4 separate regions of the Homo sapiens genome follow, and all the other regions are linked to region 2. The links come from fine-mapping of genetic effects on gene expression. A gene starts in region 2. Each other region holds a variant in brackets. All regions are shown on one strand. Distances are between the middles of the regions. Region 1 overlaps DDB1 (damage specific DNA binding protein 1). Region 2 holds the start of SDHAF2 (succinate dehydrogenase complex assembly factor 2). Region 3 overlaps LOC105369329 (a long non-coding RNA gene). Region 4 has its middle 8.6 kb from the start of SAXO4.

The links. PIP is the estimated chance that this variant, and not a neighbour inherited with it, causes the effect. A credible set is the group of variants that fine-mapping cannot tell apart.
Region 1: its variant is the best candidate, but not a certain one, in a credible set for the expression of SDHAF2 in whole blood (TOPMed, PIP 0.89).
Region 3: its variant is the best candidate, but not a certain one, in a credible set for the expression of SDHAF2 in thyroid (GTEx, PIP 0.54).
Region 4: its variant is the best candidate, but not a certain one, in a credible set for the expression of SDHAF2 in whole blood (TOPMed, PIP 0.69).

What each region holds. Positions count from the first base shown.
Region 1 is chr11:61,308,380-61,312,379 of GRCh38, forward strand. It overlaps DDB1 (damage specific DNA binding protein 1), which reads right to left. Exons shown (of 27, transcript NM_001923.5): 17 at 3,610-3,705; 18 at 3,405-3,516; 19 at 1,916-2,039; 20 at 1,417-1,581; 21 at 604-698. Among named protein-coding and RNA genes, the nearest start is that of VWCE, 15 kb to the left of the region's middle. The variant G/A (reference allele first, on the strand shown) is at 2,495.
Region 2 is chr11:61,427,043-61,433,407 of GRCh38, forward strand. SDHAF2 (succinate dehydrogenase complex assembly factor 2) reads left to right here and starts at 3,082. Exons shown (of 4, transcript NM_017841.4): 1 at 3,082-3,140. The coding sequence starts at 3,105. It overlaps CPSF7 (cleavage and polyadenylation specific factor 7), which reads right to left and starts at 2,933. Exons shown (of 10, transcript NM_001142565.3): 1 at 2,872-2,933; 2 at 2,140-2,248. The coding sequence starts at 2,193. RefSeq lists enhancers at 2,148-2,796, 3,153-3,212 and silencers at 2,303-2,732, 2,843-3,012, 2,871-3,206.
Region 3 is chr11:61,498,133-61,504,497 of GRCh38, forward strand. LOC105369329 (a long non-coding RNA gene) reads left to right here. Exons shown (of 3, transcript NR_188527.1): 2 at 1,631-1,703. Among named protein-coding and RNA genes, the nearest start is that of MIR4488, 7.3 kb to the right of the region's middle. RefSeq lists a silencer at 1,031-1,231. The variant G/A (reference allele first, on the strand shown) is at 3,348.
Region 4 is chr11:61,469,316-61,475,680 of GRCh38, forward strand. No RefSeq gene overlaps it. Among named protein-coding and RNA genes, the nearest start is that of SAXO4, 8.6 kb to the right of the region's middle. The variant G/A (reference allele first, on the strand shown) is at 3,902.

The DNA of each region.
Region 1 (4,000 bases), 120 kb before region 2:
CCCACTTCCCACATTCATCCTGGCATTCCTCCAGTCCTGCACCCCTTTTACTTCTCACCATTTCACGTACTATGTACTTTATTTGCTCATAAACTCCAAAAGGGCAGCTCATTGTCCATTTTGTTTGCTGCTATCTCCCTACTCCAAAACATCAAGTTGTCCATTTTCGATATACAAAATTTTTGTCAACTATACCTCAATAAAGATGGAAAAAAACTTTTTAGCAAGGGAGGAGGTAGGGTCATGGCATAAGCAGTGGAATATTTCAAAGGACTAGCTTTCAGGAATGCACTCAGGATATTCTGATTTGGCTCATTTTCTTTTGGCATGGAACATCCTACGTGCAGGGACCATAGGTCTCACTCGTTTCTCAAGTCCCACAGCACTCAGGATCTGAAACACATGGGGGTTCACGTAACCTAGTCTAATGCGTGGTTCAACCTCAGTTTCCGAGATTCTCAACTCAGAGCTCTATCCTCCACACCCGCTACTTTGTTCTCCTTCAGATCTGACACACACGTGGCCCCAGACAACCTAAGAGAGACACATTCTGCAGACAATGATGGGCAGCCTAAAGTAAGTACCAAGTGGTCCAGGCCTCACCGTGCTATTGATGCTGGCTAACAGCTTCCCGTTAAATTCCACCATAGAGTACACGGCCCCTTTCACTTCCTTTTCAGCCACAGTCTGTAGTTTTCCTGGGGGTGGAAAAAATATGTTTGAGTCTCTATGAGCCCACACTTTACCTCATCAAAAGAATCCTCTGGTTGCCCCTGTGGTACAAATTCTTGCCCCCCAAAACCACTCATCTAAAAAAACAACACAGACTCAGTATCTACTGGAGTTAATGACCACGTGAAGTATGAGCCCCAAGATAATGTGCAGAGAAATCCAGTTGGTATCTAGGATCTGCCCCCTCGCCCTGAAACTCTAGATCTCTCTCTCAAGATGGAAACCAGATCCCATTTCAGCTATCTGATCTGAGATTTCCGGGCTGATAGTCTTTAGAGCCATCTTGGGTGGGTGTAACGAGAAAAGATATTAAAATATAAACACAGAGTTGAAGCTGGAAAGAGCACCTAAATGCCTGAGCAACCAAGTGGAAAACAAACCTAAGATTCTGAATTTTTATACCTGTTGTCACTAGATTCCCTTACCCATCGTTCACTTCTCCCACCCCTCCCTTTTGTTCTTTTGGCCTTTCAAAGAGTAGCAAAGAAAGAAATGTAAGCTAAATTTTACTGTGTACTGTTCACATGCTCCAAAATTCAATCAAATAAAGAAGAGAATAGCTCTTTACAGCAATGAACCCAACTTCTTCTACTGCTTAACTGAGGCTCTCTGAAACCTCACAATGGCCTGCTGACTTTCTCAGCATTTCACATCCCTCAGAAACTGGAGACTGCGCCCACTTACCATCCGAATACTGAAAGACCACAATGCGACCCTGCTTGGGCTCTGCCTCTTCAGGATACACCATTGCTGTGCCCACAATGAAGTAAGTGTTGGGGTCTTTGCCCAGCTTGCAGGAAACCAGACTGAGGGCATATTCATTCTGCAGAAACTGGTGGGCATGAAGCACTAGAGAGTAGAGAGATGACTACGTGATGACAGGTTACCCATATCTGCACGCACACATAACCCCGTATTTCTGAGGCCTGTGGCTTAGGCAGTGACAAAGCGTGTACCACCTGCTGTCCCTGTCTCATCAGATTATCCATCCCCCACCAGCCTAAGCTAAGGAGAGGATGCCCAGCCCTCCAAACTCACTGCCATCTCACAGAATTCCCACCCCTCCTTTCTGCTCCTCCTAGGACAGTCTGCCACATCTGTCAGGCTTTGCAGGTACCAGAGCCCAGAACAGCCTGGATTAGGGAGGGCGTAGATAAAAATTATCGAAAGAGCTCATGTGCACCTTCAAAGGTGTGTTGGTCAATGATAAGTAGGTTGTGCACCTCCACCTCTTCTCCAAAGGAGGTCTCATGAGGAGCAGTGCTGCTGGAGAACAGCTTGCTGGAGCTTACACTGCTGGACAGAGCCTGCAAACAGAGAGAATGCACATCATCCTTCTCAAACACAGAAGAAGTGCTGAGACATCATTGTGAAGGGACCCGTCAGATCAGGACACAAAGGCTGCAGCTAGCCAAGAACTCTGATGGCTGGCAGCTCAAGGAGCCTGAGGAGAGTGTTTCAGAGGAGGCATGTAGTTGAAACATCAATCCCAAACAGTAAAAATCTAAGGGTCATTAAAGACAAAACAGTGATGCTTCAAGTCAATCAAGCACAGCTAAAAAGGAACTCAGGTGACCTAATGGGGACAGACTCCACTACCCTCAATGGGAAGAGGAGGGGGGCACTTCAAATAAAAACAGAAGCCATGAAGACTTCAACTCTGGACTACGGAGGGAGGTCCTATCGCAGATATGTGGAAACATGAAAGGCAGAGAATACATGGAAGAAAATGACCAGCTGGTATCACCACTGAGCCTAGTAT[G/A]TGTAGCTCCAGACTGTTATCTGCCTCATTCTGCAGATAAGAAAACTGAAGTTTAGGCTTTCCCAAGGTCACACAGCTAGCAATAAACCTGGAAGCCAGGCCAGGCACAGTGGCTCACGCTTGTAATTCCAGCACTTCGGGAGGCCGAGGCAGGCAGATCACAAGGGCAAGAGTTCGAGACCAGGCTGGCCAACACAGTGAAACCCCATCTGTACTAAAAATACAAAAATTAGCTGGGCATGGTGGCACGCGCCTGTAATCCCAACTACTCAGGAGGCTGGGCCAGGAGAATCGCTTGAACCTGGGAGGTAGAGGTTGCAGTGAGCCGAGATCGTGCCACTGCACTCCAGCCTGGACGACAGGGTGAGACTCCGTCTCAATAACAAACATAACATAACATAACATAACATAACATAACATAACATAACATAACATAACATAACATAACACATAACATAACATAACATAACAAACATAACACATAACATAACATAAAACATAACATAAAACATAACATAACATAACATAACATAAACCCAGTAGGCACTTTTGAAAAGCTGGTTTCTGTCTTAAAAAAAAAACAAACAAACAAACCTGGAAGCCCGTTCTGTCGGACTCCAAACCCCATGTTCCTCCTCTATTCGACCACTCTACAAAGGACCCAAACTGATGGTGACAGATGCTGCAAGGCCACCAAGTAGGAACTGTTTTTTAAAAATAAACTTTTATAGAAGCCAGCTATGCTCACCTGTTGCCTACAGCTGCTTTCAGGCTACGATGGCAAAGTTGAACAGTCAGTGGTAACTGAGACCACACTGCCTGCAAAGCCGAAAGCCTTCACTACCTGGCCTGTACAGAAAGCTTGCTGGCCCCTGCTCTAAGGTCATCTTTCTTTGTCCACTGCCCTTACCTGGGTGCTAGCGCTGGGCCTCAAGGCTGTCGTGCCCCCACTCGTGTCTTGGACTTCAATGCGGCTGGAGAGGACCCCGAAACACTGGGACACTTCCTGGTAGCAGATCTTCCTGCAGAACAAGTACAGAACAACAGTGTCACTTAGAAAGTCAGAAGCACCCTACACCAACCCCCACTTCCCACTCTCCCACCCTGGGCCTCACCTTGGAGACTCATAGAGGGGAACTGTGCGAATGTGCAGCTTCTGGATCTCATCGATGGTGCCAATGGTGAGGGTGCTATTGTTGGCCAGCGCCAGGCTGGAAAGAAGGGTCTGGGTTTAGACTGAGGAGACTCAAGGAAGGCAAAGATTCTATGAGGCAACTCCACAGAGGAAGAAAAACAAGGCAGGATTACACCAGCTTTGACTCCATGCTAAACATCACCTGGAGAGACAGACAATTCTGATTCCTGGTCCCATCCACAAGATACTCTTATTTCATTGGTCTGGGTGAGCCTAGGCTGAGATTTTTAACAGCTTTCCATTTAATGATAATGTGCAACCAGTTAAAAAAATCAACGCTCCAGGAATGTGACTTTCAAACTACTGCCTGT
Region 2 (6,365 bases):
AAAAAAAAAAGAGAAGAACTAAGGACCGCTCTTGTTATCTTGGTGGGGGAAAAACATAATCTGCAAAAAGTCTGAACTGGGCAGAGTGGCTCACACCTATAATCCCAACAGTTTGGGAGGCTGAAGTGGGAGAATCGCTTGAGCTCAGGAGTTGAGAGACCAGCCTAGGCAACACAGCAAGACTGTGTGTTTTTTTTTTTAAGGTATTAAAAGTCTGATTCAAATGAATATGGAAAACTCAGGAAAACAATGATTTTGTAACTAAATTAACATCTAGAACTTTTCTCTTTTATCCATAATTATTGGACTTATTTAAAACTAAAAAATTTTTTCGCCATGCACGGTGGCTCACGCCTGTAATCCCAACTTTGGGAGGCTAAGGCGGGCGGATCACAAGGTCAGGCATTCGAGACCAACCTGGCCAACATGGTGAAACCCCGTCTCTACTAAAATTACAAAAATTAGCCAGGTGAGGTGACCCACGCCTGTAGTCCCAGCTACTCAGGAGGCTGAGGCAGGAGAATCACTTTAACCTGGGAGGCAGAGGTTGCAGTGAGCCGAGATCGCGCCACTGCACTCCAGCCTGGGTGACAGAGAGAGACTCTGTCTCAAGAAAAAAAAAAAAAAAAAAGGAAAATTCATCTATTTAAGATAATCAGCAGCTATATTTAAAGGACCACAGTTAACCACAACAGAGACAAGAAACCTGCCATTAAAAAGTATAATTGGTGAAGCTGTATAATGGGTACAAGGTCATTACATTATTCTGCTTTTGTGTATGGTTTATAATTTCCATGTTATAAAACCATAATACATCAAAAAATAGATTTTCATGTAAACTTATGCCAAGTGAAAAATAAATGGCATGTATCCGCCTCTTCTGTTGCCTCATATCAAAGTCAGGGTCAAACCAGGGAACTTTCCCTTTCTAACCCATTCAATACATGCTCTTACCAGGTCCTTATGTGTACCCACTGGAAGATGCAAATGGGAAGAGCCAGCTTACTTACATAGAATGGTGCTGAAAATAACCCAGGCAAGATATTAGTACGTTTTCAATAGAAATTTTGGAACATTCTTGAGAATTGACCTCAAGACTGAAAAACTTAACTGCATGGAAGATTATTTCTTTGAGAGAATTTTTCTTGTGTTTTTAAGAGTCAGGGTCTTGTTCTGTTGCCCAGGATAGAGTGCAGCGGCCCAATCATGGCTCACTGCAGCCTTGAATTCCTGGGCTCAGGGAGTACCTCTTGCCTCACTCTCCAGAGTAGATGGGACTACAGGCACAAGCCACCATATCTCGTTGTTGTTTTTTTTTACATTTTTGTAGACTGGGTCTTGGTATGTTGCCCTGGCTGGTATTGAACTTCTGGTCTTAAGTAATCTTCCCATCTCAGGCTCCAGAGCAGCTGAGATTACAGTCAAGAGCCACCTTGCCCAGCTCTAGATAAATTTCTGTATAATGTTCCCTGGTACAATAAAAACAAATCCAACTGAGGGTATGTGCATGGGTCTATTATCAGTTTTCTAACTGGTTTGTCTAACGTCTTTACTCTTTTATTCCCTCTAGAAAGACTAAAGGTAACCAATACAATTTATTATACCAAAATGCCTGTGGACTTCTCATGACTGGAGTCAACCTACTTATAAAAGGAAGTAAAACTTAATTGGAATGGAGTTGAAACTAAATGTTAAAGTCATCTTTTCTACTTTGCTTTTGCACTGTCACGATGGAGGGGACTACACTTCTCCAGCTGCAGGTTGAGAATGTAAAGGAACCGGTATCAACACTGTCCTCATGAATACCGTAGCAAATGTACTTTTGATTTTTAAGTGTGGTTAGTCTGACACCCACCTTTGGCTTCCTGGGGAGTAAATTCCACAGGTTGATTCACCATTCTATTACACCTGCTTTTTATTTGCTCTTAAATCAAAGCCTTTAAAATTAAGCCTGGAGCTTCAAATTAACATAAAGAGGAATGGAGTGTAGTCTTTAAAGTTTCTGCAGGAGAAAAATTTTAGACCGGATAGACGCGTGTTCAAGCCTAGGACTGGTACAGCTTGAAACCACTGCCAGTTTGCTGAAAATGATTCCTCAGATGATCAAGGAAAATCCCAAAGCTCCTGATGACACCTCACCTGGTTGAACTCCTCGTCAGCATATATATCAATCAAGTCCACTCCTTCTGACATGGCTCCGGAAGGAAGATCGCGAGTCCGGAGGATGGACAAAGTAAGGAAGATGCCACTGCGGGATTCGGAAAAATGCAAGAATTAGAAGGCACGAGGGTCCTGGGCTGGGAAGAGGGTAATGATTGCTAACCTCCCATCTCCAGAGACGCAGCATCCTGGCGGCCCCAGCTCGGCCCCACCCGCTCCGCCCCGCCCCCGGCCTCGCGCCGCCCACCGCTCTCCCAGGCCGCCGGGGGTCGCTGCCCATCACCCTCGGGCCCGACCCGGGTAGCGCCGCGTCTGCGCCGCAGCTGCCTATGGCGCGACGGAAAAGTCCCACCCTCGGGTCCTAGTGGCCCTAGGACGGCGTTGCGAAGAATGACCGCGGCGAAGCCCGCAGCCCCTATCCGCTGCACCTGCCTAGCCCCCAAGGCGGCTCCGGCCAGAGCCCCCAGGTGTCAAGCAGCTCCAGCCGCCTCTGCCCCCAACCCAGGCCTACTCTTCGCCCCCAGCTAGGCCCGCCCCGCTCCCTCCCGACAAACCCGGCCCGGCGCGCTCTGCCTCCTCCCTCAAAAGGCCCGCGACTCCCTCCGCCCGCAGACTCCGGCCGTCCCATCTCAACCGACCCCCTTCCCGCCTCAGTGCCGGCCCGGACCCCTCTTCCGGCCCAACCTGCCCCCGACCGCGCGCCCCCGTTACCGGGAATATGGCGGCGGCGGCGGCGAGTCCGGACTAGGCCCGAAGCGCGCGAACCGCTCTCCGCCCCAGGTCCCGCCCCCCCCGCCGCCGGCGTCACACGCACCGCCACTTCCGGCATGCGCAGGGACGCACCTTCCGGCTCAGCTCCTCCGTGGCTGCCGTGGTCGGCTGGCCGGGCGGCTAGGAGTTCCCGGAAGTGCCCGCGCAGCCGGTTTCCGGTGCAGGTGGGGAAAATGGCGGTGTCTACAGTGTTCTCGACTTCGTCGCTGGTGAGGAGAGAGAACGTTCTAGCGTCCGGGGCGGGCGGCAGCGGGGATTACCCTTTGTCTTCCTCTGTGGTCTCTATCTTGGGGAGAGTTCGTCTGCCCGATAGCGCAGGGCAAGGGCAGGCCCAGGGAGAGGCCGATCCTGCAACTCAGGAAATAAAGGTCGCTTCCATTCTTTGGTGAGCCTACTGTGTGCCGGTCTGGAAATATCTGCTTAAACGATCAGTCATCGTCCAAGACCCAATTCGCCTCTCACCTACGTCCCAGGCGGGATTAGCCCAACTTCCCTGGGCTCCCCTTCTCCCCGTTCTTTAGTCTTTAATGCTTTTCGTGGTTTCACATAGTATCTTCAGCTTTTTGTTTGTTTATAATTGACATATAATTGTACGTGTTTATGGGGGTACAGTATAATGTTTTAATACATGTGTACATCGAATAATCAAATCAGCGTAGTTAGCATGTCCATCACCTCAAATCTTTATCATTTATTTACGGTAATAACTTTTCAAGATCTTTTTCTAGCATCTTGACATATACAGTACAGTGTTATTAGCTGTAGTCACTCTAATATGTAATAGAACACTGGAACTTATTATTCTTTTTTCCTAGCCTGCTGTTATAAAGTAACTAACTTTGCCTCTATCTTCCCCTCCTACCCCCATCCCTATCTTTATTCTTTTTTTTTTTTCCTGCAGACCCAGGGACTCGATCTTTATTCTTTTTTGATGTAGGCGTTTACACTATAAACTTCCTTCTTAGTACAGCTTTTGTCGCATCTCATAATTTTGTATATGTTGGGTTTTAGTTTGTCTCAGGATATTTCCTTTTTGTTTGTTTTTTGTTGTTTTCCTTTTTTTTTTTTGAGACGGAGTTTTGCTCTTGTCGCCCAGGCTGGAGTGCAATGGCACGAACTTGGCTCACTGCAACCTCCACCTACCGGGTTCAAGCGATTCTTCCGCCTCAGCCTCCCAGGTAGCTGGGATTACAGGCATCGCCATCATGCCTGGCTAATTTTTGTATTTTTGTAGAGATGGGGTTTCACCTTGTTGGCCAGGCAGGTCTCGAACTCCAGACTTAAGGTGATCCGTCCTTCTCGGCCTCCCAAAGTGCTGAGATTACAGGCGTGAGCCACCGCGCCCGGCCTGTTGTTTCCCTTCTTTTTTCTTTTTTTCGTAGAGACAGGTTCTCACTATGTTGCCCAGGCTGGTCTCAAACTCCTGGCCTCAAGTGATCCTCCTGCCTCAGCTTTCCAAAAAGTGCTGGGATTACTGGTGTGATCCACCATTCCCGGCGTGTCTCAAGATATTTTCTAATTTTCCTTTTGATGTCTTCTTTGACTCATTGATTGTTCAAGAGTGTGTTGTTTAATTTCCACATATTTGTGAATTTTCCACCTTTTCTTTTGCCATTGATTTCCAGATTTTAATAAAATGTCTCTTGTGCGGCATATAGTTGAATCTTTTTTTTAATTCATTATATTCAGCCACTTCATGTCTTTTGGTTGGGGAGGTTATGTTATGTTATGTTATTTTCTTGAGACAGAGTCTCGCTCTGTCGCCCAGGTTGGAGTGCAGTGGCATGATCTCGACTCACTGCAAGCTCCACCTCCTGGGTTCACGCCAATCTCCTGGTTTAGGAGTAGCTGGGACTACAGGCGCCCCCCACCACGCCTGGCTAATTTTTTGTATTTTTAGTAGAGACGAGATTTCACCGTGTTAGCCAGGATGGTCTCGATCTCCTGACCTCGTGATCTGCCCGCCTCAGCCTCCCAAAGTGCTGGGATTACAGGCGTGAGCCACCGCGCCAGGCCTGGAGTTTAATCCATTTATACCTAAAGTAAATAGTGGCCGAGGTGGGTGGATCGTGTGAGTCCTGGAGTTCGAGACCAGCCTGGGCAACATGGCAAAACCCCTTTTCTACTAAAAAAAATTAGTCAGGTGTGGTAGTACACACCTGTAGTCCCAGCTACTTGAGAGGCTGAGGCGGGAGTGCGTCTGAGAAGTCAAGGCTGCGGTGAGCCTTGATTTTGCAACAGCACTCCAGCCTGGGCATTGGAAGTGAGACCTTGTCTCAAAAAATAAATAAAATAGGGAAGTACAATCATCCCTTTGTATCCATGGGATGACTGTTGTAGGATCCGCTGTGGATATCAAACTCTGCAGAAGCTCAGTCTCTTATATAAAATGGCATAGTATTTGCATATAATCTACACACATACTTCCATATCCTTTAAATTATTTCTAGATTACTTATAATACCGAAAACAATGTCAAGGCTATGTATATGCTTGTTATACTATATCTTAGTTGTTTTTTAATTGTTGTATTATTTATTTCTTTTGAATATTTTTGATCCACAGTTGGTTGAGTGTGCAGTTGGTTGAATTTACAGGTGTGGAACCCACAGATACGGAGGGCCAACTGTGCTTGCTGTTGCCGTTTTGTAAACTGTTCTCTGTCTTACAACCTTTTTGCTCCTCTTTTCCACTCTTGTCATCCTTTATATTTCGTTGACTTTTTTTTTTTTGTAGTGACATACTTTGAGAAACGAATTTCTCATTTCCTTGTGTGTCTTACACAGGTATTTCTTTGTGGTTACCATGTGGCTTATATAAAACATAACAATCTGTTTTGATAACTTAATTTCCATTGCATACAAAAACTCTGCTCTTTTATGACCCCCTTGTATGTTGTGGATGTCACAAATTACATCTTTTTATATTGTCTCCATTAACAAATTTTTATAGTTGTTTTTATACCTTTGTCTTTAATTTCTATACCAAAATTAAAAGTGACTTACATACCACAGTTACAGTATTATAGTATTCTGTACTTGTCTCTCTCTATATATTTTTTTAATTTAATTTTTTTTTTTTTTTGAGACGGAGTCTCGCTCTGTTGCCAGGCTGGAGTGCAGTGGCGCGATCTTGGCTCACTGCAACCTCCATCTCCTGGGTTCAAGCGATTATCCTGCCTCAGCCTCCCGGGTAGCTGAGACTACAGGCGCCCGCCACCATGCCTGGCTAATGTTTTGTATTTTTAGTAGAGATGGGGTTTCACTGTGTTAGCCAGGATGGTCTCCATCTCCTGACCTCGTGATCCGCGCACCTCAGCCTCCCAAAGTGTTGGGATTACAGGCGTGAGCCACCGCACCCGGCCTCCAGTGATAATTTAACACAACTCATACCAGTATCACACAATTCCCTGGAACTATGTGACAACCATTATT
Region 3 (6,365 bases), 71 kb after region 2:
AAAGCTTCTCCTGAGCACAGAACAGCATTTGACAGTGTGGGGCTTCTGGGAGGACAGTGCAAGCAGGGGCAGAGGGAGAATGATCACGCGACTCCCTGAGTGGTCACAGGCTGATGAGGTCTGACGATGGAGGCTGTCAGTCAGAGTTCATCACAAGCAACAAAAACCACAGCTGGCTAATTTAAGCAGAAAAGGAATTTCTTAAAAGGACTTGGTCACTCACAGAATCTTCAGGTGGACCTGAGAATAAAACTTAGAGCCCGGCCGGTCGTGGTGGCTCACGCCTGTACTCCCAGCACTTTGGAAGGCCGAGGCCGGCGGATCACCTGAGATCAGGACTCCGAGCCAGCCTGACCAACATGGAGAAACCCCGTCTCTACTAAAAATACAAAAATTAGCCGGGTCCGTGGTAGCAGGCGCCTGTAATCCCAGCTACTCAGGAGGCTGAGGCAGGAGAATCGCTTGAACCCAGGAGGTGGAGGTTGAGGTGAGCCGAGATGGCGCCATTGCACTCCAGCCTGGGCAACAAGAGCAAAACTCCATCTCAAAAAAGAAAAAGAAAAAAAAAAACCAAAAAACTTAGAGCCCACCCAGCCAGGAAGCACAAAGAAAATCGCCCCATGGCCCTGGGACCACAAAGACCCCAGGCCTCCCCACCGCTGCTCCTGGGACACAGCCCCTGCTGCCGCTCCTCACACCGCCCTCAGGAGGGATCTGAGTGATCCCTTCTGCTCAGCAGTTCTCATTTCCTATTCAGAATCTGACGTGGGTGTACTTGGGGGCGACTTCCGGGTCACAGGCTTCCACCTCGCTTGCAAGGGATGCCGGGAAAGTGAGCTCCCAGCGTTTTCAGCTGCCTTGGGAGGAGAGTGGGCTCTGTTTTGTAAGGCAGGTGGATTCTCCAACATAGCCAGGGGCTACAGATGCTGGGAGGCCCAAAGAAATCAAATGTCCTTCCCACGTGAGTTACCATCACTAAGAAGGGCATTTGTGGGGTACCTTCTGTAAGCGGGGTGCTCTCGGTGCTTTTACACACCTAGGGAGTTTGCTGTTGGCCTGCGAAGACCCTTTATGGGACATGGATCAAAAGTGCTGTTCCTCGAGATACTTACCTCCAGTATAGGATCCTGGTGTCAAAAGGAATCAGATACGGCTCCATTGTACATGGCATGACTTGTATAGCCAGACAGAGCAGGTATATGTGAGTATGGACTTCATAAGCAATACTCAAGACCTCAAAAGTGTATCTTGGGGCCGGGCGTGGTGGCTCACACCTGTAATCCCAGCACTTCAGATGGCAGAGGCGGGTGGATCACCTAAGGTCAGGAGTTTGAGACCAACCTGGCCAACATGGCAAAACCCTGTCTCTACTAAAAATACAAAAATTAGCCGGACATGGTGGCACACACCTGTAATCCTAGCTACTTGGGAGGCCCAGGCAGGAGAATACTTGAAGCCGGGAGGTGGAGGTTGCAGTGAGCCGAGATTGCGCCATTGCTCTCTAGCCTGGGTGACCAAAAAAAAAAAAAAAAAAAAAAGTGTATCTTGGTCTATCAGTAACAACTGGATTTAGCAAAGATGTGGACTTCCCCAGCCTAATCTCTCGGCTACACCCATGTCTGTCTTGCAGGTGTGGAAACTTCTGGATGCCTGCTCTTGTGAGTTCACCTCTATGTCTACTCTACTGAGGCCTCTCCATACAGGTAGAGTGACTTGTGGGAGGCCTGTTACATCCTCAGGCCACACCTGGTAAGGGAAGCGCAGGTGGGTCCCACCTGCCCTGGTGCCCCCCTCAGGATACCTGGGGGTATATACTTTTTCTCATGCCACCCCCAGGCTCTGCCCAGATGGGGCTGACGACTGGTTTTTGGGCTGGCATCCGTGTTTCCGGGCGCTGCTTGCCCGTTCTCTCCCACCTGCCGGTTGAACCTTAATCTCCTTTTGGGTGCTATCTTCTGCGATGACGCATCCTTCCCCTCTCCAGGGCTTATGGCATCAGCTCTCTGCTCTCGAAGTTCAAAGCCAAGCTTTTTTGGACCTACACAAAAGATTTCTCTTTCAAAACTGGTTGTTGTAAGGGTATAGTCTCAGCTCTGGGTTTCAAAGCCTCTTTTGCAACTCAAAGCCAAGGATTTGACTCTTTGTTCTGAGTTTCCCTGGAGAGCAGGGAATATAGGAAACCAACTTAGCATATGAATGCAAGTCAATGGATATAAGGAAATTGTCTACAGTGGAATAAGTTAGTATCTCAAAATGACAGCATTCAGCTCCCATACACTGTCACTGACGCTTTGTGATAATCCTTTGAGAAAGGGTGATTTTGCCCGATCCAGAGCTGAGACTAGGGTGAGGGGGGGCAAGGCACTTGCTCTAGACACCATATTTAAAGAAGTGCCAAAAAAACCCACCTCCATAATTAAGTAATAGTTTGATGCAATCATTGTAAAAGTAAAAATTATTGCCAAAAATCCATGATGAAAAAAAATCAAAATTTTAAACGAAGATGAGATTCGTGTTACTGATTTTTCCTTTGCTCGAAGGTTCCAATAATGGCTCCACACAGCACTGGCACTTGGCACTGATCTGTTTTTTTTTTCCTTTTTTTTTGAGACAGAGTCTCACTCTGTCACCCAGGCTGGAGTGCAATGGCACAATCTCAGCTCACTGCAACCTCCACCTCCTGGGTTCAAGCGATTCTCCTGCCTCAGCCTCCCGAGTAGCTGGGATTACAGGTGCACACCACCAAGGCTGACTAATTTTTGTATTTTTAGTAGAGACGGGGTTTCACCATGTTGGCCAGGCTGGTTTCGAACTCCTGACCTTATGATCCACCCGCCTTGGCCTCCCAAAGTGCTGGGATTACAGGCGTGAGCCACCGCGCCTGGCCCTCTGATCTGGTCTTCATGGAGCTCACATCCTAGTCCATCGGAAACAGACTTCAAGCAAATAATTCACAGTTATTATTTATTTAGTGTGATTGGAATAATTACTTTGAAGGAGAAATGTGGGAGCTCAAGAATCTATAACAGGGGCTTGACGTGCTCTGAAAGATCCTGGAAGGGAAGTGTGTTAGTCTGTTCTTGCGTTGCTATAAAGAAATACCTGAGGCTGGGTGGTTTATAAAGAAAAGACAAGATGGGCATATTGGCTCACTCCTGTAATCCCAGCACTCTGGAAGGCCGAGAAGGGTGGATCACCTGAGGTCAGGAGTTTGAGACCAGCCTGGTCAACATGGTGAAACCCCATCTCTACTAAAAATGCAAAAATTAGCTGGGCATGGTGGCACACACCTGCAGTCCCAGCTACTCAGGCGGCTGAGGCAGGAGAATTGCTTGAACCTAGGAGGC[G/A]GAGGTTGCAGTGAGCCTAGACTGCTCCATTGTACTCTAGCCTGGGCAACAGGAGAGAAACTTTCTCAAAAAAAAAAAAAAAAAAGAAAAAAGAAAAAGAAAAGAAAAGCTGTTTATTTTGACTCATGGTTCTATAGGCTGCACTGGAAGCATGGTGCCATATCTGCATCTGGTGAGGGCTTCAGGGAGTTTACAGTCATGGCAGAAGGTAAAAGGGAGTAGCGTTATCACTTGGTGAGAGAGGGAGCAAGAGATAGGAGGGAAGGTCCCAGACTCCTTAACAACCAGATCTTGAGTGAACTGAGCAAGAATTCACTCATCACCAAGGGGACAGTGCTAAGCCATTCATGAGGGATCTGCCTCCATGACCCCAATACCTCCACTAGGCTCCATGACCCACATTGGCCGTTACATTTCTTTTTCTTTTTTTTTGAGATGGAGTTTTGCTCTTGTTGCCCAGGCTGGATGGAGTGCAATGGGGTGATCTTGGCTCACTGCAACCTCCACCTCCCGGGTTCAAGCAATTCTCCTGCCTCAGCCTCCCGAGTAGCTGGGATTACAAGTGGGCACCATCACGCCTGGCTAATTTTTGTGTTTTTAGTAGAGACGGGGTTTCACCATGTTGGCCAGGCTGGTCTCGAACTCCTGACTTCAGGTGATCCGCCTGCCTTGGCATCCCATAGTGCTGGAATTACAGACGTGAACCACCGCGCCCAGCCAGGGATTACATTTCAACATGAGATTTGAAGGGGACAAACATCCAAACCATATCAGGAGGTTTCAGCTGAGACCTTAAGGATGAGTAGTGTGAACCAAGCAGAGTGGGAAGAAGAGAATTCCAAGCAGAGGGACTGGCATGTCCAAAGGTCCTGGGGTGAAAAGAAGCTCTTCAGGTTAGCTCATCTCCAAGTGGTGACTCTGGGATCCAGGATCCTTTCCATCTTTAACATCACAGTAGATAAATGGAGCATGGAGGATTGTGCATTCATGTGGTATGTTTCACTTCTGCCCACATCCATTAGCCCAGCAGTCATCCCAGGGTCTTACCCTCTCAGCTAGGAAAAGTAGTTTTACTGAGGGCTCAGGAAGAAGAGGGGGAAAAAACAGAAGTTGGTCACTCTCAGTAGCCTCTGCCCCAGGGGGACCAGGCCAGACAAGTCCTTGGTAGTCTTGGTTGGGACCTGGATCTGTATTCTTGGAGCAGATGATCTGATTTGCATTTGGCCACAGATCCAAGAAGGTATTAACATAAAGAGCGACTGCCAGCCATGACCCCAGCATTCCTCCCAGGAGGAAGGAGTCATCAAGTCCACTTTGTAGCTTGATGGCCTAACAGAACCCACTGGGGTGGTCAGAGTTCCATCCACAACATTCTGGAATGTGGCCTTGGGAACCAGTCAGCTTCTCCCCCTCCTCACACTCCTGTGGCCTCTGTTGCTCCAGCTCTGGTGTCTCTGAGGGGGACCTGGGAGGACTCTCAGCTTTCAACAGATCAGGCAGGTAACTCACAGAGCTAGGGTTCCAGGTAAACATGATCCCCAGGCCACGCCTGGGCTCTGGTTTCTTAGGCAGGATGGGAGGAGTAGGTTGGCAGTGGCTGAGCCAGCCTGGTGAGTTTGGCTATCACTGATGGGCTCTAGTCTAACGGTGGGCCAGAGACTGCCTGGAATTTGGTATCATATAAGCCCTGAGCCCAGATCACAGGCCTAGGATGACCCAGGACCTGGGGACCTCTTTGTTCTGTCTTGTGGGACCTGATTTGGGGTTCCTAGGCTTGCCCTGTGGATTTCAGGATACCCCCTAGTTAGGCAAACATATGAGCCCTGGGGCCTGGGATGGGAAAGGGGAAGTGGTGTGGCTCATAGCCACTCTTGTCCTCTCTGACAACATCAAAACCTCCAAGCAGGGCACCCCTAGAAATATTTTTGCTGTTTGCAGGATGGAGGTGAGCGTTTGAGCACCCAGGGTGGTTTCTCTAATTTCTCCTAGACCACAGAGTCAATGAGACATCGTCGACAAAGCCCGGGCTTTGCAATAAGATGGACTGGGTTTGAATCCTGGCTCCGCCCCTTACCGGCTGTGTGACCTTGTAGCTTGGCAGTGGCTGTTTAACCACACTGAAACTCAAACTACTTAACCTCTCTGAATCTAATCTGTTTCTTCATCTGTAGAGCCAGAGGGTGGTGGAGAGTATAGTACCTGCTCGGCAGAGCTGTTGTGAAGAATAAATTTGACAACCTGTATGTGCTGAGTAAACGACAGCTAGCATTATCCTGTGGGAGAGAACCAAGAGGAGAGAGGTTAAAGTTGCACAAAACCCTTTCCCCAACACACACACATACACATGCATGCACGCATGCACGCACACACGTACACGCATGCACACACGTGTGCGTGCACACACACACACATACCCCCCCATATCCTGCAGCCATAGCCAAAGGGATCCTGTTAAAACATGTGTCCTCTGTGCAAAATTCCCGGATGACCTGTCACCTAGAGTCAAAGCCAAAGTCCTCATGAAGGACAGGGGCCCTCCTCGGCCTGCCCAGTCCTTACTTTCTGTCTCTGATCTCCTGGACCACCATGCTTCCCCTTGCTCCCTGGGCTGGGCCCCTTGCTGCTCCCAAAGTCCCAGGCATACTCTTGCCCTAGGGGCTTGGCACTGCCATCTCCACTGCCAGGAGTGTACCCTGCCATCTTTGCTCAATGCCATGGTCTCAATGAGACCTCCTTTGGCCACTCAGATGTTTTTTTGTTTTTTTTTTTTAGACAGAGTCCAGATCTGTTGCCCAGGCTGGAGTGCAACGGGCAATCTCAGCTCACTGCAACCTCTGCCTCCCGGGTTCAAGCAATTCTCCTGCCTCAGCCTCCCAAGTAGCTGGGATTACAGGCACCCACCACCACCCTGGCTAATTTTTGTACTTTTAGTAGAGACAGAGTTTCACCATGTTGGTCAGGCTGGCCTCGACCCCCTGACCTCAGGTGATCTGCCCGCCTCGGCCTCCCAAAGTGCTA
Region 4 (6,365 bases), 42 kb after region 2:
TGGAACTCAGGCACGTTGGCCTCCAGTAAGCATGCTTGTACTGTTACCCTACACGGCCCTTAGGTTAGCACAGAGAGATTATTTATTTATTAAAAAAAAATTTTTTTTTGAGATGGGGTCTCACTCTGTCACCTAGGTTGGTGTGTAGTGCTACAGTCTCAGCTCACTGCAACCTCTATCTCCCAGGCTCAAGCAATCCTACCACCTCAGCCTCCCAAGTAGCTGGGACCATAGGCGCACACCACCACACCTGGCTATTTTTTTTTTTTGGTAGAGATCGGCTTTCTCCATGTTGCCCCGGCTGGTCTTGAATTCCTGAGTTCAGGCAATCCGCCTGCCTCAGCCTCCCAAAGTGCTGGGATTATAGGTGCCAGCCACCAAGCCCAGCCCAGAGAGATTATGTGTAACTCTCTCTACTACTAGTTCCATGGGGGATAAGGACCATACATACATTACGTTCCATTCTGTTCTGTGTTTTAGCACAGTGCCTGGCACATAGTTGGTGCTCATTAAATGTTCATTGAATGACTAATTGACTGATGAAATAAATGAAGGTAGAGACTCTTTATGAAGCTGCCTGTGCTGGATCCAAGACCATTGATATCTGTTGCAAATGGAAGTTGTTAATGAGACTCAACAAGTTAGTGGAAAATGTTTTGAGTGTTTTATGAGATTCTCTTTTTTTTTTTTTTTTTTTTGAGACAGGGTCTCACTCTGTTGCCCAGGCTGGAGTGCAGTGGCGAGATCTTGGTTCACTGTAGCCTCAACCTTCCAGGCTCAGGCGATTCTCCCACCTCAGCCTCCCAAGTAGCTGGAACCACAGGCATGTGCCACCACGCCCAGCTAATTTTTTGTTCACCATGTTGCCCAGGCTGGTCTCAAACATGGACTCAAGCAATCCACCCACTTCGGTCTTCTGAAGTGCTGGGATTACAGGCGTGAGCCACTGTACCTGGCCTTTTTTTTTTTTAATTGGTTAATTTATTTATTGAGGCGGAGTCTCACTCTGTCGCCCAGGCTGGAGTGCAGTGGCACGATCTCGGCTTACTGCAACCTCTGCCCCCCGGGTTCAAGCGATTGTCCTGCCTCAACCTCCCGAGTAGCTGGGATTACAGGCGCCTGCCACCGTGCCTGGCTAATTTTTGTATTTTTAGTAGAGACGGGGTTTCACCATGTTGGCCAGGATGGTCTTGAACTCCTGACCTTGTGATCCACCTGCCTTGGCCTCCCAAAGTGCTGGGATTACAGGCATGAGCCACTGTGCCCGGGCTTTTTTTTTTTGTTTTTTTAATTAACTTTTTTAAATTTTAAATTTGAGACAGGGTCTTGCTATGTTGGCCAGGGTGGTCTCAAACTCCTGGCCTCAAGCAATTCTCCCACCTCAGCCTCCCAAATTGCCGGGATTATAGGCCTGAGCCACTGCACCCAGCCACAGGATTCTCTTAAAACCACAAACTTACCATACTTTCTAGATGTTTCCTTTCCCTCCTATGCATGATATAGTTAGCCACTATCTAATTGAAAGGTGTACTAGTCACGTTAGGCTAGACTATGATAATAAATAAACCCCCAAATCTCAGCGACTTAACAACGCAACCCTTATTTCTCATTTGTGCCAAGTCCAATGTGAACTGGGCAGCTGTTCAGGACAGCTCCTTTCTGTGGCAGCCCAGGGATCCACGCTCTGCCATCTCAACATGTGGTCTCCACGGTTGCTACTAAAGGGAATGAGAAAGTGCGGATAACTCACATTCACTTGCAACCTGGAAGCAACACGTGACACTTCTCCGAGCCCTTGGGCCGGAGCTAGTCACATGTTCCTGTGGAACTGCAAGGAGCCTGGGAGGTGTGGTTCTCCCTGGTACCCAGGAAGGAGAAGAGAACCAGATCTGGCTGAGCCTGAAGTCTCTACCACAGTCTGTTCTGCTGGTCTCCATGTACCGCATTGGATTTGCTCTTCTTCCTACACACAACACACAACATGAAACTGCTTTCCAAGAGAGAAAACCCAGAGTGATGTGCAGCTCCTGCCTCCAGCCAGGATCTCATGGGCTGCCCTAGGGTCTCTTTATGAGGTCTAGAGGTGGCCTTTTTTGGTCCAGAGATGTAGGAATTTTAAAAAGTTACCTGTTGGGGGCCGGGTGCGGTGGCTCACGCCTGTGATCCCAGCACTTTAGGAAGCCAAGGGGGTGGATCACCTAAGGTCAGGAGTTCGAGACCAGCCTGGCCAACACAGTGAAACCCTGTCTCTACTAAATATACAAAAAAAAAAATTAGCCAGGTGTGGTGGCACGTGCCTGTAATCCCAGCTACTCAGGAGGCTGAGGCAGGAGAATCGCTTGAACGCAGGAAGCAGATGTTGCAGTGAGCCAAAATTGTGCCACTGCACTCCAGCCTGGGCGACAGAGCGAGACTCCGTCTCAAAAAAAAAATAAATAAAAAATAAAAATAAATTTTAAAAGTTACCTGCTGGGCACAGTGGCTCACACCTGTAATCCTAGCACTTTGGGAGGCCGAGGCAGGTGGATCACTTGAGGACAGGAGTTTGAGACCAGCCTGGCCAACATGGAGAAACCCCATCTCTACTAAAAAATACAAAATTTAGCCAGGTGTGCTGGCGCATACCTGTAATCCCAGCTACTCGCGAGGCTGAGGCACAAGAATCATTTTAGCCTGGGAGGCAGAGGTTGCAGTGAGCTGAGATCATGCCACTGCACTCCAGTCTGGGTGACAGAGCAAGACTCTATCTCAAAAAAAAAAAAAAAAAGGCAGGTTACCTGCTTCTCCCTTCCCACCCCCACGCCATACACAAAGGTGGAGTAGGGGCAGGGACAGGATAACCACAGTAAGGATACCCCGGGAAGTGGGAGCTGAGGCCTTCTGGGCAGACCTTGTGGAGGGGTAGGGAAGTTTCTGGAAGGAACTACCTTCATCGCTGCTCTCAGGGCCGCTTGGCTCCCTCATTTAAAGCTCTTTTTCCCCTACCTTACTTTACTCGATCATATCTGAAGTAGGGATTGTGTGTTCCACCCTCCTTGAGGGTTGTGTGGATTTCTCAGCCCACTTCCTGCCCATGGAAGTTTTAAGTTTCAAATAGTCACAATCTTTTTAAAGACCAGGCCCATGGCCAGGGGCGGTGGCTCATGCCTGTAGTTCCAGCGACTTGAGGCTGAGGCGGGAGAATCTCTTGAGTCCAGGAGGTTGAGGTCACAGTGAGCTATGATTGCGCCACTGCACTCCAGCCTGGGTGACAGAGCAAGACCCTTTCTCTAAAAAAAAAAAAAAAAAAACAAAAACCAAACAAAAAAAGCCCCATTTTTTTTGGGCATTACTGTTTTCTCAAAATTTCAGTAGGCCTCTCATCTGTCTGCTTCCAGTGAGTTTCATATGCCTGAATGTGACAGTTAATTTGTGTCTCAATTTGTCTAGGTGACTGGGTACCTGGATATGTGATCGAGTATTCTTCTGGGTGTTTCTATGAGGATGTTTTTGGATGAAATTGGCATTTAAATTGGTAAACTGAGTAAAGCAGTCTGTCCCCCTAACCGGGGTGGGCTTCATGTAATCAGCTCAAGGTTTGAATACAACAAAAAGACTTACACTCTCGCAAGTGAAAGGCAATTCTTTCTGCCTGGTAGCCTTCAAACTGAGACACAGGCTTTTATCCTGCCTTCAGATTCGCCTGGGAACACTGGCTCTTCCTGAGTCTCAAGCCTGCTGGCCTTGAGACAAGAACTACATCAGCTCTCTCAGTTCTCAAGCCTTTGGACTTACTCTGGAACTAAGCCATCAGCTCTCTTGGGTCGTCAGCTTGCCAACCAACTCATCCTGAAGATCTTGGGACTTGCCAGCCTTCATAGTCACGTGGGCCAATTCCTTTTTTTTTTTTTTTTTTTGAGAT[G/A]GGGTCTTACTCTGTTGCCCAGGCTGGACTGCAATGGCACGATTATGGCTCACTGCAGCCTCAACCTCCAGGGCTTGAGTGATCCTCCCACCTCAGCCTCCCAAGTAGCTGGGACTACAGGCACATGCTACCATGCCCAGCTAATTAAAAAAAATTTTTTTTTTGTAGAGACGGAGTTTCACTGTGTTGCTCAGGCTGGTCTTGAACTCCTGAGCTCAAGCAACCCTCCACTTCAGCTTCCCAAAGTGCTGGGATTACAGGCATCACTGGCCCAGGCAGAGCCAATTCTGTATAATAAATCTGTCTCTCTCTGTCTCTCGTGTATGTGTGTGTGTGCACATTCTGTTTTGCTAGAGAATGCTGACTAATACAGAATCACATCCTAATTTATTTCCTAAGAAGTTCTCAAATCTTCATTTCTTTGCTTATGCCGCAGTAACAAACAAAACCCCAAACCTTAGAGGCTTAAAGCAGCAAGGTTTATCTCTCTATCACATCCCAGTGTGCTGCAGGAAAAGCAGCTCCAGGGCAGCTGACTCCATGCAGTGACTCAGAGATCCAGCCTGCTTCCATCTTTTGGTTCTTCCATCCCAAGTGTGATTTCTACCCACAGAGAATGGAAAACTCACACCCACCTCTAACTACTCAGACTGGGAGTGGCACTGCTCAATTCCACCCACAGAACCAGCCATGTGGCCCTTATCTAACTGCAAGGAAGGCAGGAAAATGCAATGATAATCATAAACATTTCTTGAGTGCTTTCTCTATGCCAGGCTGTGTGCTAAGCATGTAAATATTGTCTTTTCTGTATTCCAAGCCTAAGTCTCTTAAAGTTCTACTGTGACCTCATCATACAGCCAAGGAAACAGGCTCGGAGAAGTTAAGGAAGTTGTCCAAGGGCACATACCTCATAAAGGCAGGGCTGCAGAATTGAACCCAGATCTCTGTGCATTGGAAACCCACCCCCTTGACCCCTGTCCTGGTTCCTTGCTCATCTCTGCCAAGAATATCTTCATTCCATCTGAGGATTGGGAATGGCTTCTTATTTTCTGCCTCATCTCATTTCATCTTCCCCGCGAGTCATGAATTTTTAAACCTTGTGTGAGATCAACAAGTTCACCCAGAGGAGACAGTAAAAGAACAGAACAGGCAGGAACAGAACAGCCATCAGATACACAGGATAGAGTCTTCCAGGAAATGCCCACTGAGGGGAGAAATGAACCACAAGTGAGGCCAGGATTGTGGGAGGCTGTGAGGGAAAGCAATCCGGTCATCAGGGGAATCATTTCCTTTTACGAAAGAGAGAGAGATGGGACTTAGCCATTAGACTTGGGCTATTTCAGTTCCTGGTAATGACACAGCTCAGTGAATAGAACCCCCAAAGCACTTTCGGAAGGGGGGCCCCAGTCCTGGGCAGCTCTCCTGCCTTAATCACTGCAAGTCACAGAGCAGAGAAACTGGAAATGGGCAAAATCGATGACAGGCCTGCCTGCAGACCACGCCCTGGACCCAACCTGCGCCCCCACGGTCATTATGTCACCCATCACTCCTTGGTGCTCACACAGCTGAGCCCATGAAGCAGGGCAGCCCCCACTCCCAGGACTAGACAGAAAGGTGGTTGCACGAATCCAGGGCTCCATGCTCTTCCCCATCGCAGGGAAGACAGGGCCTCACAGACTTGATGTCCTCCCAGTCAGCTCTTCTCTGCCATGATCCCCTTTATGCTGCGTCCCAGCTTCAAACTGCTCCCCTGAAAGGGTCAGTTGGAGCAGCTGAGCTTGGGGCATCTCACCTGGGTGAGCTTTGTTGGTGGGCTCAGAAGAATCTGGGTTGGGAAACAGTACTCTGGGGGCAGAATGAGGGGTTCAGTGAGCCCTTGTGTCCTTTGTGGGCACCTTGGAGTCTGGCTTGGGAGAAACTCCCTGTGCAGGTCCAGCAGGCCTAGAGGCCAGGCTGAGTGTGGGTTGGCATGAGGCCGACTCCCCTCCATGCCCCGCTGTAATAAGGCAGAGGGGAAGGACCTTGGAAGGGGGTAGGCTGGGGTCCTGCTATGTCACAGATGGCAGGTGAGGGGCCCAGGGGGAGGGGACGTGGAACCAGCCATCACTTCAGTATATGAAGACAGAGCTCCAAGTTCTCCAGGCCAAACAACACATCTCAAACTAAAGCAAGCCAAACCTCCTATCCTGGCTCAACCCCCTCTTCACAGGCAACAGGATCAGAGGGAGGCAGTTAATTAAGAAGGGTCACATAGCACTATTTGTGCCAGAGCCAGACCTCAAACTCAAGCCTAGAAAAGGCTCAGAAAGGGGCAGGCATGTAACCTCAGATCACCTGAAGCCAAGAAACATTACTCTAGGCTTGTCCCAGCCTCCAGCATGGGAATTTCAAAAGTAGGAGTATAATTACCCTCTCCCTGCCACCCCCAGCCTCCTGGGCTGGGAGGGCTCAGTGCCTTTAGCTG